Linked DNA regions of Homo sapiens. The protein of the gene in region 1 purifies or fractionates together with the protein of each later gene. This does not show direct contact. Each region holds a gene or a part of one and is shown on either strand. Other genes may lie near its edges.

Region 1 (4,075 bases):
CTTCGGGGGTATTAGGGACCCGACTAAACACACTTATTCTTCTCTCTGATTGCTGGACCATTCCCCAACTATTTGGAGCTCCACAAAGTATCAGGACTTCATCAAGAGCTCAGTGAAGGGTGAGATCTCAAAGATAAATATAGAGGACTCATTCCAAATATAGAACCAGTTAAGTTTGCATGCTCCCTTCTGTTGAAGAAATATCAAGGGGTTTCCTGTCTTGGCACTACTTAGCAGCAGCTGCGGCTATGTATCCACTTGACATCTGGTGAAATTGTAGTTTTTGATGGAGGAACATTTAAAGTTGACAACTGTCATTGAAACAACTGGTATATAGTTTTCAAAGACAAGCTAGAAACCAGTAATAGACTAAGTACTTCAATTTTGTTAAAAGAAACTGGGTAAAGGGTTCAAGTTATATAAGATAGGGAAGTCTGGTTTTCCAGGTAAAGGTTCTCTCTCTTTTTCTGTTGGAGATGTCATTCATCAACATAACGAAGCCTAAATTTAAAAGACTAAGACAAAATATTTACAAATCACATAAAAGTGAGGAAACAGCAAAATTAGTAGTCATTAGGAGAAAGCCAGGGAAGACAGGACATTCATCACATCCTTTCCTCATCTGCTTTCCTCACTGAGTCTCTGAGTGCTCATTAAATGCTTTCAATACAGTGTAATTAAGTGTGTGAACATGGTTGTCATGCTCCTCCAGGAATCTTGAAACCAGGAATGCCAGGTATATAACAGCGGGTTACAAAAGAAAACACGGATTCCTAAATCAGTGTTTTACTGTCAGTGCAGTGTTAAATGTCAATGCAACACTTAAGTTGCATTGACATTCATGTGTTGATCGGATTGTACAATGTGACGTGTGAGATTTCTCGGGACCGTCGAAGCTCAGACAACTCCAGGGCTGCAATTTACTCGTCTGGCTGCCCTCGAACCAGGCTCCCTTGGCGCGTGGGGCTCTCCCGGCGCTTGGTCCCGACCCGCGCCGCAGTCAGGATACCACGGCAATCTGGGGTCGCTTTGTAAGGAGCTCCGACCTCCGGGCAGTGCAGGGATACTCGACGGCGCGCGATGTCCCGGCGGCTCCGCGAGCCTGGCGCGCTGAGAGCCCCAGCAGTCCGAGTCCTCGAGCTCGGGCGTCTTCGCGCCGCCGCCCCGCTCAGTGCGCCCAGGCACCGCGGCCGTGACGTCACGCCCGGGACTGGCCGTTGCAGCAAGACGGCCGCGTTCCGGTTCCGGTAGGTTGCCCGGGAGACGCGGGTACACAGAGAAGCGGCTCCCGTCGGAGGCCGAGTCGTCGCCACGATCGCCCCCTTGGTGGACTCGCAGGCCGAGCGGCTTCCCCGCAGAGCTCGAGGAGGGCAGACGGCGGCGGGGGCGCCATGAGTCAGAGGCAGGTGCTGCAAGGTAGGGCCGAGGCGGGCAGGTGCCCTAACTAGCTGGCGCCGAGGAGACCCGGGTGCGGTGGGCTCCACCGACTCTCTCTCCCGCAGTGTTCGAGCAATACCAGAAGGCCAGGACCCAGTTCGTGCAGATGGTGGCGGAGCTGGCGACTAGACCCCAAAACATCGAGACGCTGCAGAACGCGGGTGAGCCCGGAGCCCGAACCCCCGTCGCCCCCCGCGCACTGAGTCCCCGACGCCTCCGCCCCGCTGCCCTGCCCGTGGAGCTCTTGGGGAGCCGCAGTGTGGGGACCGGAGTTCGCAAAAGCATCCATTCTTTTCAGCGGGTCTTTGGGGGTCAGGCCGAGAGGGTGAAGCTTCCAGATGGTTGTGGGAGGTGCGCGTTGTCCCTGTTTCCATCTTCATTGCACACAGGCAAGTGTCAGGTTGAAAGTCGAGGCCCTAGGAATTGCCTGGAGTCATTTTACGTGAATGGGACTCTACCCTAATGAGACCCATTTTATCCAAGTGCCATTTTGCATGCCACCCTGCCTTTGATCACCTTCGACTTCCTCACAGCAAAGCAATTCCAGTGGTTTAGACGTGATTTCTCGTCTTGCTTTAGTGAAAGGGGAATGATATGCTTGAATCTTTTCCAAGAAATTCCAAGTAGGTAGAGACCAGACTTTGCGAAATCCTTATGGCGCGTTCCTTCTACTCCTCAGTCCGGACTCTTGCAGATGTGAGAGGGGGAGAGAGGGGGAGAGGGAGGGAGAGAGATCTTCTTATCTCATAACATAAACTGATAAGAGAAAATGGTTCTTCTTCTTCTTCTTCTTCTTCTTCTTCTTCTTCTTCTTCTTCTTCTTCTTCTTCTTCTTCTTCTTTCTTCTTCTTCTTCCTCTTCTTCTTCTTCTTTTCTTCTTTCTTCTTTCTTCTTCTTTTTTTTTGGATGATTCTACCACCATCTGAACTGTAAGGTAGCATTTTATCACTACTGTGTCATGAGAAATCTTCAGTTTATAGGATGTGATCTTTAAAACTAACACATAATTTAAACAATTAACATGTTGACAGCAAGAATACTTAAGTGTAATGATTACTCTGGGTTTCTTTGAGGGGAATTACTACTGCACCTATGTGATACTTCGTTTTGTCACTAGGATTTTTGGCATTTATTCCTTGTGTGTTTTTATTGGGGGGCATGTATTTACAATAAAGTATATTTTATAATCTTCTAAACGCATTTTAGTTTGAAATAATTGTAGATTCACAACTGTAAGGGATAATACAGAGAGATCCCGTGTACCCTTTTCTCAGTTTCCCCAATGGTAACATTTTTCAAAACTGTAGTGCAATATCACAAGGAGGACATTGACATTGATAAAAATTCGTTGATCTTATATAGGTTTCCTCCTTTTAATTGTTCGTGTGTGTGTGTGTTTTGTCCTATAGAATTTTATTCCGTGCGTATCCACCACCAGCACAGTCAAGATACAGAACACTTTCATTGTCACAAGGATCCTCTCTCTTGCCCTTTTATAGCCACACACACCTCCTGCTATCCCTAACCCTGGACAACCACTAATCTCTTCTCCATTTCTAAAATTTTGTCATTTCAGAATTGATAATCCTTTGTTCTATAGTTGTTTTATATGGGTTGATTTTCTGTATTCTGTGTGTGTGTATGCACCCGTACTCCTCCAAGTACCCAGAACAATACTGGGCACACAGTATTTCATATACACAGACTAACACAGACTAAGGTATTAGAACATGTTACATTTTAGAAGTGTATTTAAAAGTAATTTTAAAGTGTAAACTTTTAAAGTTTTTTCTCTCAGTCCCTCTCAATGACCTTTGTGAATGGACATTTACTACTTAACAAAGATTTAGTTTCTGGACAATATGAATATAGCCAAACTAAAACTTTTAAAATGGGAAAATAATTGATATTATTTTCAAATTTTAATACTGAGATGTTAAAGTATACATAACTTTTAAGATACGGAGTATCATGTTTTAGTGAGTAGTGGCAGGTTAGCTCCTCCCATAAGAGTGCAATGTAGACTTCACAATGGAACTTAATCCAAATTGACTGTATAAGTGGCTTAGATATAAGATTCTACACTTATGGTCTGGCTTAGGAAAGATGAATACGAAAGGAATATAACTTTATGTTTTGAAATTCTCTGCACTTGACTAATATCTGGGTAGCATGCTAAAATGTTTCTTTTCCTGAGGGACTTATTTTTAACAAATTTCATGTTATCGAGATTCAATTCAAGCATTCCTTTAGCAATTTTAAATACAGACATAATGAATATTCAATGTATTTATTCTTTTGATTAAAAAAGAACCTGTAAACTTTGTTATGAAAACTTTTCTTTCTTTCTTTGAGACAGAGTCTTGCTCTGTTGCCAGGCTAGAGTGCAGTGGCATGATCTCGGCTCACTACAACCTCCGCCTCCCAGGTTCAAGCGATTCTCCTGCCTCAGCCTCCTGAGTAGCTGAGACTACAGGTGTGCGCCACCATGCCCAGCTAATTTTTGTACTTTTAGTAGAGACGGGGTTCCAGCATGTTGGCCAGGATGGTCTCGATCACTTGACCTTGTGATCCACCCGCCTTGGCCTCCCAAAGCACTGGGATTGCGCCCGGCCAGTTTTCTTTCTTAATAGTCAGT
Region 2 (3,500 bases), on another chromosome or scaffold:
TTTGAGATGGAATCTCACTCTGTTGCCCAGGCTGGAGTGCAATGGCGCAATCTCGGCTCACTGCAATCTCTGCCTCCCAGGTTCAAGTGATTCTCCTGCCTCAGCCTCCCGAGTAGCAGGGATTACAGGCACCCACCACCATACCCAGCTAATTTTTGTATTTTTAGTAGAGATGGGGTTTCACCATGTTGGTCAGGCTGGTCTTGAATTCCTGACCTCAGGTGATCCATCCACCTCGGCCTCCCAAAGTGCTGGGATTATAGGCATGAGCCACTGCACCTGGTCAGTCTGGACATTTTCTAAGGTTTCTGTGATTCAATGGTGGGACCACCTCCTTGGTTACAAATTTAGCTTTCTCTTTGCATCTTCCATAGTAAGCTGGGTTAACCAACGTTCAGCAATTCGATAACTCCTGGGGCATGGAGATCTGCATATGTAGCTGAGTGGGTGCAGCACAGACATACAGTGCGTGGCCCCAGTGCCTCCGGTTAGACTATAAACAGCTCTTGGAAGAAATCACAGGACAAGAGTGAGCCTGCTCTGCTGACTACGAAATGGTTTCCTGAGGCCTCCCTAGCTTCTGGGTTTTCTCAAATTATAAAACTGGGGGATCCTTTTGTGCATTAAAACCAGATTGCCCACACCCAGGCCCAGCTGGTCCTCCCCAGGGAACTTCTCTGTGCTGCCACAGAACCCAAGCTCTCCAGGCACATCTTACCGTATGCAGCCCGAGGGTGGCTGCCCGCAGAAGTGCCTTCCGAGGTCCCCAGTGTCTCCCCTGCTGCTCCCGTGAGCGGGATGGTGCTGTCATCATTAGCCTTGGCACCTGGTAGCTCTTTAAATACTGGGGACTCTGCTTCCTGAACCTTACTGAGGCTTTCGTCAGATACTCGTGATAAAGCACCTTCTTTTTGTAATTTGCCTAAAGAAAACAAAGTCATACTGAACATTCTGGAAGAGAGTTCTTATTATTGAAACATGAATATTAAAAAGTGAATCTATATCTTTATGCTTTAGCACTGATTTTGGAAACAAAAAAAAAAGTTATAGCTAGATAGAGAAAATGAAGTTGAGGCCAGGTGTGGTGGCTCACACCTGTAATCCCAGCACTTTGGGAGGCCGAAGCAGGTGGATCACCAGGTCAGGAGTTTGAGACCAGCCTGGATAATATGGTGAAACCCCGTCTCTACTAAAAATATAAAAATTAGCCGGGTGTGGTGGCAGGCGCCTGTAATTCCAACTACTTGGGAGGCTGAGGCAGGAGAATCTCTTAAACCCAGGAGGCAGAATTAGCAGTGAGCCAAGACTGCGCCACTGCGCTCCAGCCTGGGTGACAGAGTGAGACTCTGTCTCAAAAAAAAAAAAAGAAAGAAAAGAAAAGAAAGTCAAAAGTTCAATTAATTACCTGGAAAACTCTAGCCAGAAAATTCAGCAATTGAGGAAAAGATGGAAATTTAGGGCCCGAGTTATCATATCCAAAAACAACAACCAAAAAAGGGTCAGATCCGAATACCACAGTTCCCTCCAGCACTAATGTTCTGTAAATCTATAGCCACCCAGACTGGCCTTCTGTTTTCTTAAACTAACCTCAGAATCAGAAATTTCAATTTCTGAAAAATTGCCTTTTTCAGAAAGTCACATAAATAAAATAATAAAATATGCGATTTTTGAGACTGGCTTTTTCTACTCAGCATAATGCCTTTGAAATCCATCCACGTTGTTACATGGATCAATAATTTGTTCCTTTTAATTGCTGAGTAGTATTCAAATGTACAAAGGCACCACAGTTTATTTATTCTGTGGATAATGTGGGTTTTTGGAGATTGCATATAAAGGTGCTATAAACATTCATGTGCAGATTTCTGTGTGAATTTAAGTTTTCATTTTTCCAGGGAAATATCTAGGAGTGGTTAAGAGTATATTTATGGCAAGTGCTAGCCATATAAGAAGCTGCCAAACAGTTTCCCTGTACCATTTGACATTCCCATCAGCAACGTACGAGGTTCCAGTTCCTCTTCATTCTTCTAAATACTGACAAAATTTAGTACTGTCAGTATTTTTCATTATTTATTTATTTATTTATTTTTGAGATGGAATCTCACTCTGTCACTCAGGCTGGAGTGCAGTGGCTCTATCTCAGCTCACTGTAACCTCCGCCTCACGCGTTCAAGCGATTCTCCTGCCTCAGCCTCCCGAGTAGCTGGGACTACAGGTGCGTGCCACCACGCCCAGCTAATTTTTGTATTTTTAGCTGAGACGGGGTTTCACCATGTTGGCCAGGATGGTCTCGATTTCTTGACCTCGTGAACTGCTCGCCTCAGCCTCCCAAAGTGTTGGGATTACAGGCGTGAGCCACCGTGTCTGGCCCCATCTATCTTCTTTGGTGAAGTGTCTATTCAAATATTTTGCTCTTTTTTTTTTTTTTTTTTTGAGATAGAGTTTCACTCTTTTTGCCCAGGCTAGAGTGCGCTGGAGTGCACTAGCGTGATCTCCGCTCACTGTAACTTCCGCCTCCCGGGTTCAAGTGATTCCCCTGCCTCAGCCTCCTGAGTAGCTGGGATTAGAGGCACCCACCACCATACCTGACTAATTTTGTATATTTAGTAGAGATGGGGTTTCACCATGTTGGCCAAGCTTGTCTCGAAATCCTGACCTCATGATCCGCCCACCTCGGCCTCCCAAAGTGCTGGGATTACAGGCATGAGTCACCGTGCCTGGGCTATTTTGTTCTTTTTGTTTGTTTGTTTGTTTGTTTTGAGACAGAGTCTTACTCTGTTACCAGACTGGAGTGCTGTGGCGCGATCTCGGATCACTGCAACCTCTGACTCCATGGTTCAAGCGATTCTCCTGCCTCAGCCTCCTGAGTAGCTGGGATTACAAGCATGTGCCACCACGCCCAGCTAATTTTTGTATTTTTAGTAGAGATGGGGTTTCACCATGTTGGCCAAGATGGTCTCAATCTCCTGACCTTGTGATCCACCCACCTCAGCCTCCCAAACTGCTGGGATTATAGTCGTGTGCCACTGCGCCTGGCCTATTTTGCTCATTTTTTAATTGAGTTATTTGTTTTCTAAAATGTGTTTTTATTTTTTGAATACAAGTCCTTTGTAGTTATGGGATGTGCAAACATTTTTTCCCATTCTGTTCCCGGTGCTTCTCACAGAGCAATAGTTTGAAATTTTGATGAAGTACAATTTATCAAGTTGTCCTTTTTTTTTTTGAGATGGAGTTTTGCTCTTGTTGCCCAAGGGGAGTGCAATGGCACAATCTCGGCTCAATGCAACCTCTGCCTCCCAGGTTCAAGCAATTCTCCTGCCTCAGCCTCCCAAGTAGCTGGGATTACAGGCATGAGCCACCACACTTGGCTAATTTTGTATTTTTAATAGAAACAGGGTTTCTCCATGTTGGCCAGGCTGATCTCGAACTCCCGACCTCAGGTGATCTGCCTGCCTCAGCCTCCTAAAGTTCTGGGATTACAGGCGTGAGCCACCATGCCTGGC
Region 3 (3,989 bases), on another chromosome or scaffold:
CGAAAAACAACACAAAACTCCACAGCACTGAGTGGACCACTGAAAACCTGCCATGGGCAGGCTGGACGTACAGGCCCCAAATTTGTTAGCTTTTCATCTCCAAGGGCACGAATGCAATTGTGCTGCCGAAATGTCTCGCCTTTGAGAAACGCGTGTGTGTGTTTTTCCCCTTTCATTATTAGAATATTAGGTTTTAAATGGCACTGGCAAACAGCCACATAAAATTTGTGATTTTAATAGAATCCCTTCAATTAAGGAAACGTGCAAATACCACTATGCCAACAGCAGTCTGACTCGGCCAGACAGATAGGATATTGTCATCATCACCGCTTCAAAGATGACTTAACGCCCCTTAATTTCACATCCTTTGTTCAGGCAAGATCACAGCATGAGCGGCTGGACTTAAAACTGTAATAAGTATAACGTCTCCCATTTACTAGATACTTACACTGTAAGGAAACCATTATCACCCCCACTTTACAACTGACGAAAGAAGTACATAAAGGTTGGTGATATGATTGGCAATAGAGTTCCCAGGCGCCTAAGCTCCAGGGCGCAAGGTCTCAACTCCTGGAGTCTAAGTTTATACCTCCCATAATAATACCGTCCATTAGTTACTCTAGAGTCCTCCTGCCTTGTTTTTCTTAACGTTTTACTTCTCTGCAAGAACATATTTTAAAAAGTTGCTTCTACAATTTAAAGTACAAAAGTAATACTGTACAGGAGTAAGTCTTTGTAAAATATTTAAAGAAAATTATATTATACAATAAAACCCCGCCCCCCTGCATTCGGGGCAGCGACGCTGGGGGAACGACTTTAGAATTTGCATTGGGTGGACAGCAAATACTTCCGTAAAACAGACCATGAAGCTTTCCACTTGGAGCCCACTGTGGCCCCAATGCCTTTCCCTTTCGCTCCTGCTCCAGGCTCCGCCTCCGCCGTGTCCGGGCTGCTCGCCCCGCCCCCGCTCGCCCCGCCCCCGCTCGCCCCGCCCCCGCTCGCCCCGCCCCCGCTCGCCCCGCCCCCGCTCGCCCCGCCCCCGCTCGCCCCGCCCCCGCTCGCCCCGCCCCTGGATTTGCTCCCTCAAAGCGGAGGTGAGGCCGGACTGAGGCTCTTACAGTGGTCCCTGCTGGCCCTTGGTGACGGGTCGCGTCAGTTCCGACCCGGACCCGTACGCTGCTGCGCTGACGTGGCTCCTGGAAGCAGGGCTGGCGTAGGGCCGCCATGTTGCAGCAGGTGAGGGGCTGAGGGCGCGCTGGGAGGGTGGCGGCTCCTGGGACTGGCTCTGCAGGTTCCGTGGGACTGGAGCCCGCGTCCCCCGCGCCCGCTACTCGAACTCGAGGAGGAGCGGGGCGGCCGGGAGTGGAGGGCTGTGGGTAGTTGTCTGAGGAGGGCTGCTGGGGGTTCTGAGGCCGCTGGGGGAGGCGTGACCCGTGCGGCGCAGAGCAAGTACTTCTTGCGGCTGTGGGGACGCCCATTGTTAACCAGCGCGAGTGGGGGTCTCTCTTTCCTCAACCCTTATTGCCGGGGTGGAGTTGAGGAGGAGCGGCCTGCGGGCCTCTTAGCTTCCTGACACCCAGGGGTGCGATGCTATCTTGTAGGAATCGGCGACACCGCCAGAGCCTCGCTTTCAAATTGCTGTTTCCAAACTAATGTTGTTGGTGATTCTCTCCTTTGTGCTCTTAGAGTTAATTGTAGTCCACATGTTGGCAACCAGAGACTCGTAAGATTAATAATATTTTTAGAAAAAACTACTGTTTATGGTCACTTAGATTGTCTTAAGTGTTTTTTTCTTTCGGTTCACACAAAATTTGTTGAGGGATTACTATGACTCAGACACGGTTGTAGGCCCAGGGATAGGGTTGTGACCAGTACAGACAGGTTTCTTGCCCCGTATTTTCGGGTTAGGGAAGTGGGTTCTAGGAGATGGGGGTTGGGTGGGGAGACACGATAAATTGTATAACCAAAGATATTTTCAGATAATTGCAAAGGCAGGGTGATGAAATAACAAGTGTCCGAGGATAGGACAACTAAGATTTATGGTCAGGAAAGACTGCTTATGAGGAGATGCCTTGAGTGGAGAAAATCTAATAATGGTTAAATTCAGCTGTATTACAGGAAAGGTGTCCCGATCCAGACCCGAAAAGAGGGTCCTTGGCCGGGCGTGGTGACTCAGGCCTGTAATCCCAGCACTTTGGGAGGACGAGGTGGGTGGATCATGAGGTCAAGAGATCGAGACCATCCTGGCCAACTTGGTGAAACCCTGTCTCTACTAAAAATACAAAAATTAGTTGGGCGTGATGATGCACGCCTGTAGTCCCAGCTACTCGGGAGGCTGAGGCAGGAGAATCGCTTGAACTGGGGAGGCCGAGGTTGCAGTGAGCCGCGGGCCACTGCACTCCATCCAGCCTGGCTACAGAGGGAGACTCCGTCTCAAACAAAACAAAAAAAGTCTTGGATCAGGCAAGAAGGAATTCAGGGTGAGTCCACAGTGCAAAGTGAAAGCAAGTTTATTAAGAAAGTAAAGGAATGGCTACTCCATAGAGCAGCCTGGAGGGCTGCTGGTGGCCCATTTTTATGGGTATTTCTTAGTGATATGGTTAATAAGGGGTGGATTATTCATTCCTCCCCTTTTAGATCATAGAGAGTAACTTCCTGATGTTGCCATGGCATTTGTAAACTGGCATGGCGCTGTTGGGAGTCTAGTAGTGAGGACGACCAGTGGTCACTCTCGTGGCCATCTTGGTCTTGGTGGGTTTTGGTTGGCTCCTTTATTGCAACCTGTTTTTTCAGCAAGGTCTTTATGACCTGTATTTTGTGCCGACCTCACATCTCATCCTGTGATTTAGAATGCCCTGTCTGGGAATGCAGCCCAGTAGGTTTCAGCCTCATTTTACCCAGCTCCTATTGAAGATGGAGTTGTTCAGGTTCACATGCTTCTGACATTTGAACCTGCGCCCAGGCCGGATGAGGCTGGAGAAACACAACCATGTTGACTGTTCCCACTATTTATTTATTTATTTATTTATTTATTTATTTATTCATTCATTCATTCATTCATTCATTCATTTATGAGACGGAGTTTCACTCTTGTTGCCCAGGCTGGAGTACAATGGTGTGATCTCGGCTCACTGCAACCTCCGTCTCCCGGCTTCAAGCGATTCTTCTGCCTCACCCTCCAGAGTAGCTGGGATTACAGGCGCCCGCCACCATGCCCGGCTAATTTTTGTATTTTTAGTAGAGATGGGGTTTCACCATATTAACCAGGCTGGTCTTGAGCTCCTGACCTCAGGTTATCCACCCGCCTCGGCCTTCCAAAGTGCTAGGATTACAGGCGTGAGCCGCCAGGCCCGGCCGACTGTTCCCACTTGATAAGTTTGTGATGTGAACCTCAGTCGAGCCCTTAGTGCTGCCAGGCGGTCATTCTACATTTCCATAGCCCCTTCACCCTCTCGCCTTAGGCAACTATTAAAACTCAAATCTTCAACGTTTCTTCTCTTATCCTCTCTCAGCTGGTAACGTTGCTTCTTGTTTCACTGAAAATGGAAGCCGTCGGAAGACAATTTTCACACTAGCTGCCTATTTATTTGCATGTTTACTCAGGGTCTCATATTCTTTTATGATAATTGGACTGTCAGTGCTCCATTCTTAGGTCTTCCTGTCTACTGTGTCCTGGTTTCCATCTCCTCTTGCCTACTGGAAGGCATTGTTCTAGTAATTCTCTTTCTTGCATCATCAGTTTTTTAATCCTTTTAAACGTTTGCTCACATCAACATATAAACGTGTTTTAATTTCTCTTACCTTAAAAAATGAAAACTTGGCCGGGTGCGGTGGCTCACACCTGTAATCCCAGCACTTTGGGAGGCCGAGGCGGGTGGATCACGAGGTCAGGAGATCGAGACCATCCTGGCTAACACGGTGAAACCCCGTCTGTACTGAAAAACAACAAATTAGCCAGGGGTGGTGGTGGGCAGCTGTAGTCCCAGCTA
Region 4 (4,057 bases), on another chromosome or scaffold:
GCGGGGAACCTATTGTGAACTGCGCATTGGAGGGATCTAAGTTGTGTGCTCCTTATGAGAATCTAATGATAAATGTAATGCCTTTGAATCATCCTGAAACCATCATCCACCCCCCCACCACGAAACCGGTCCCTGTTGACCAAAAGGTTGGGGGCCGCTGCTCTATATAATCCCTGGGAGACTGACGACTTTGTCTCTTTCACTTAGTGCCATGAACTCCAGGGCAACTTTGTGGACGCTCCATAAACACTTGCTGGAATGAACCCATAAATATTTTATACTACCACATATACAGTAATACATTTAAGGAGCTGCTTGGGTGTGTAAAAAATTGCAGGGGACGTTTACAAATAAAGAACCTCCTGAAACAAAGCAATGAATGGAAAGTGGGATCAGCTGGTTGAAGCAATGCCCACAAGCTGCTCCAGCTTCCCAAAGCAGAGAGGTTTTCCACCTAAGCCAACATCCTTTTATTTTTAGTCACTATAGCTATAAATCTACTCCCTTACCCCGCACCTCACTCTCAGCCGACAGCCCAATGGGCTTATCCTCCTCTCGCCCTCACGATGAGCGAGTCCACGCGGTCTCAGGCTGGAAGATGCACTTGAACACCAGCCAAGCACTCACGGACGACACTGGATTCTAGGCCGCCTGGGCTTCTCCACTGTACTAGGAATGTAAAATCAAAAGTCAGAAAGAAAACTTCGGAGGTGGAATCTCCAACCCGGCAACGGGTTAGGAAGCAAAGCGCACCTACCAAAGGGCTGGTCCCTGCAGCCTCAAGGGCTGATGGGAAGTGAATCCACCGTCAACCGCCCTGATCCAAAATGGCAGGATACCGGAGCAATAGTGTTCAGGTGTGAAGATAGGGCAATTGAAGAAGGGAGAACGAAAGCATAATTGTTTTGATTCAACATGGAAGCAGTGATTATAGGAGGGCGAATAGCGAGGGACGACGCAACATCCAGCTGGCAGAAGCAGCGGGCCTGGAGAGGGTGGCTACATTGAACTAATCCAAGATGGCGCCGAGGTTGTAACCGGGAGCGCCCAAGAGGCGGGAATTACCCTGATCCAAGATGGCAGTGGCAACTGAGGCAAGCCGAAAGACGGGAGCGCCAGGAGCGTCTTTGCCCTCAGCCAAGATGGCGGCTGCCGTGGACCCTGTCCCGGCTCCGCCCCGCGGCCCTGGCCCCGCCTGCCCCTCGTCCCTTCCTCCGCCCCCTCTCCTCGCGTAGTCCGGCCCGAGCCGCTCGCGCTAGGAGAGCGGGCTTCGGGCACTTGACATGGCGGCAGTGGCGGCGACTGCAGCAGCGAAGGGGAATGGGGGCGGCGGTGGCAGGGCCGGGGCCGGGGACGCCAGCGGCACGCGGAAGAAGAAGGGCCCGGGGCCCCTGGCCACGGCGTACCTGGTCATCTACAATGTGGTGATGACAGCCGGGTGAGGCTGGGGCTCGGGGAGGCGGGGAGCCAGCGCGGCCGGGGAGGGAGCCCTGCGGCCAGCGGCGGGGCGGATAGGATCGGCGCGGCCCGCCGCAGGCAGTGCATTCCCGGCGGGGGGTGCCCGGGACCCGGTACCTGGGCGCTGAGGGCGGCCGAGCGCTGAATCGGCCCCGGTGGCTGCCCGCGAGCTCCCTCCTGCGCTGGGGGTCGAGCCAAGTTCCCAGGCACTGGGGCGCGGGGACGGCTGCCGGGCGCTGGCTCGCGAGGGCCGCGGGAGGAAAGGTGGGGCTGGCCACAGGTGCGGGGCCGGGGGCAGCGGCCGGACTACCTGCGGCGCGGAGCCCGTCCTGGGCGGCCAGATTCGGATGTTGAACGGCGCCAGCATGGGGAGTGGAGGAGCTGTGGCTGCAGAGTGACCATTCATTTGGGCGGCTGTTTTCAAAATCTGGGCTGCGCTTTAATCTGAAAGGTATTGGGAAAGCGTTCAAAGTTTTTGGCCAGCGACATGAGCAGAGCTAGGCTTTAGATGAGTTTAGACTTTTAGGATGGGTTGGGGTGGGGAAGAAACTGGGGAGTAGAAGGCAGAGTTACTGGAAAGGGGGAGAATGGACCCTCGAAACGGTTTTACCCATCTTCTGTCTCTTTCATTTCAGTGCATCCCTTATCCCGGCGGGTTTTTAGTTCAAGCTCTGCCACTAACTAGCTGTGTGACTTTGGATAAATCATCTTATTTCTCTAGCCTCCGTTTTTTCATTTGTAAAACTAAAGGGTTGGTCTGGGTGATGAAGGTTCCTTCAGCTCTGCAATTCTTTATCTTGTCATTTTGGTGAGGAGGATCACAGCATCAGACAGTTATATATTTTTAAGTTATCTTCATTTGTAATTTTTTAAGAAGTCCTAACATTTTATTATGAAAAATTTCAAACATACAGAAGAGTTGAAAGAATTGTATAGTGAACATCCATTTTTATTTAAAGTAGGTGATACATTGTTAGGGTTAAAAATGAAAAACATGAGGGAATACAGTGAAAATCTTTCCTCCCACCTTTCCCTTCTACCCAGCTCCCCTCCCTCGAGGCAGTTAATTTTGTGTATCCTTAAGATGCTGATGCAAGCAAATATGTTTATACATCCCCCTATCCCTTTTTAAAATAAGACAAATGCCAATATATTAATATTTTTACAGTTCAGCACCTTGCTTTTTTTTCACGAAGAAGAAAATATATCGTGGGAGGATCATATATGTATTGCTAGTATTAGAAATGGTAGGTGTTGGAACCTAGGCTCAGAGAAGTTGTGACTTGCATGAGATCATAGAACTTGTTAGTAGAAGTTCCAGATCTAGAAATCATTTCTCTTGACTCACAGGTCAATGAAGAACTAGTACAGATACAAGCTTTATATCACATCAGTGGTCACATAGATTGATTTTTAAAAAAACATCCAGGAATCTCACTGTGTGTATTAATATTTATATATAAAATTCTTGTTGTCTTAGCAAGAGCCGGTGAGGGCATTGGACTGGAGAGGGATTTTGAGGTACATTGGTAAGAAGAAAGAAGTCTATTCCTGAGCAATGAACATAGAGAATGGGGTGGAGGGTAAGGAGTGGTATCTTAAACCAGGAAGATAAATTGGGATTGTGAGAGCAAAGTAAGCTTTTTTTTTAAGGCTGTTAATGGTTGTACCAGTTACACCATTAAATAATTTCTTCTTTTACAAACTCTTACTTGATGTCCTTATGTGATAGTTTTTGGAAATAGCATAGACCACACACACCCCATTGCCTAGTTGATACTATACATTTATCTAAATCCTTCCAGGAGACATACCTTAATAAAAAGGTCCATTTGTTTTATTATGGAACTTAACAAAACATTGTGTTTATTTTTGAGAAGGACAGTGGAACAAAAATATAACATTCACAGCTGTATGCTTAAGTGCTTTCCTGTTTCGTGGTTTGTATTGATCTGGCTTTCATTTCTGCATTGATTTTAGGAAATTTGGCTAAAAAACTTTTTTTTTTTAGCAAGAGCCCTTTATTCGTAATTTTAAAAGGATAGATTTTAAGGTATGGGTAATTGTTCCAGTGAGACAATTATAACAATAGTTTAAAGCATCTTCTTTCCACCCTGTAATTATTAAAAACCCTTTAACTGCACAGGCTGTTTAAAATTTTCCTTTAACTGTTTTTTTCTCGTCTTAGATTTTCTTGGCACCTGATTTAGTGGCACAAGGACCATTTTAGCTTATTCCTTTCCTTTTGGCCTTGATCTCAATAGCAAAGTTGCCAAAAAAATGAGCTCCAGATGGGTGAGGTGCCACTATGCTTTCACTGAGCCCTCTTGGTAAGGTGCTGTCGGTGTTGCAACATTTCAGTGCATTACAGCTTGGCATTTGAGAGCTATCGTCCATAAATCCAGGTTACTCATGCTTGAGGTCACCTTTAGCAATATCTTTTATTGCCACAGCTGTGTGTTAACCTAAATGCTACTTTTTTTATTTTTATTTTTTCCTGATTGCTGTTTTCTCTTTTACTAGGTGGCTGGTTATAGCGGTTGGTCTGGTCCGAGCATACCTGGCTAAGGGTAGCTACCATAGCCTTTATTATTCAATT

Evidence for each region. The genes of interacting proteins can lie anywhere in the genome.
Region 2: the proteins of SPAG6 (region 1) and SLC20A2 purify together in Homo sapiens (affinity purification with mass spectrometry; one large-scale study listed by BioGRID and IntAct). This does not show direct contact.
Region 3: the proteins of SPAG6 (region 1) and TVP23C purify together in Homo sapiens (affinity purification with mass spectrometry, with the first as the bait; one large-scale study listed by BioGRID). This does not show direct contact.
Region 4: the proteins of SPAG6 (region 1) and HACD2 purify together in Homo sapiens (affinity purification with mass spectrometry; one large-scale study listed by BioGRID and IntAct). This does not show direct contact.

The regions. Positions count from the first base shown.
Region 1 is NC_000010.11:22,344,221-22,348,295, forward strand, and holds the start of SPAG6 (sperm-associated antigen 6), read left to right. Parts: upstream 1-1,275; 5' UTR 1,276-1,391; coding exon 1,392-1,416; exon of another isoform or gene 1,417-1,502; coding exon 1,503-1,598; intron 1,599-3,796; exon of another isoform or gene 3,797-3,913; intron 3,914-4,075. UniProt on the Homo sapiens protein: Important for structural integrity of the central apparatus in the sperm tail and for flagellar motility.
Region 2 is NC_000008.11:42,438,732-42,442,231, forward strand, and holds part of SLC20A2 (sodium-dependent phosphate transporter 2), read right to left. Parts: intron 923-3,500; coding exon 719-922; intron 1-718. UniProt on the Homo sapiens protein: Sodium-phosphate symporter which preferentially transports the monovalent form of phosphate with a stoichiometry of two sodium ions per phosphate ion.
Region 3 is NC_000017.11:15,560,684-15,564,672, reverse strand, and holds the start of TVP23C (Golgi apparatus membrane protein TVP23 homolog C), read left to right. Parts: upstream 1-1,189; 5' UTR 1,190-1,224; coding exon 1,225-1,236; intron 1,237-3,989. Other genes in the region: TVP23C-CDRT4 (uncharacterized protein LOC100533496), read left to right, coding at 1,225-1,236.
Region 4 is NC_000003.12:123,582,254-123,586,310, reverse strand, and holds the start of HACD2 (very-long-chain (3R)-3-hydroxyacyl-CoA dehydratase 2), read left to right. Parts: upstream 1-1,257; 5' UTR 1,258-1,283; coding exon 1,284-1,438; intron 1,439-1,693; exon of another isoform or gene 1,694-1,909; intron 1,910-3,981; coding exon 3,982-4,057. UniProt on the Homo sapiens protein: Catalyzes the third of the very long-chain fatty acids (VLCFA) elongation four-step cycle (condensation, reduction, dehydration, and reduction).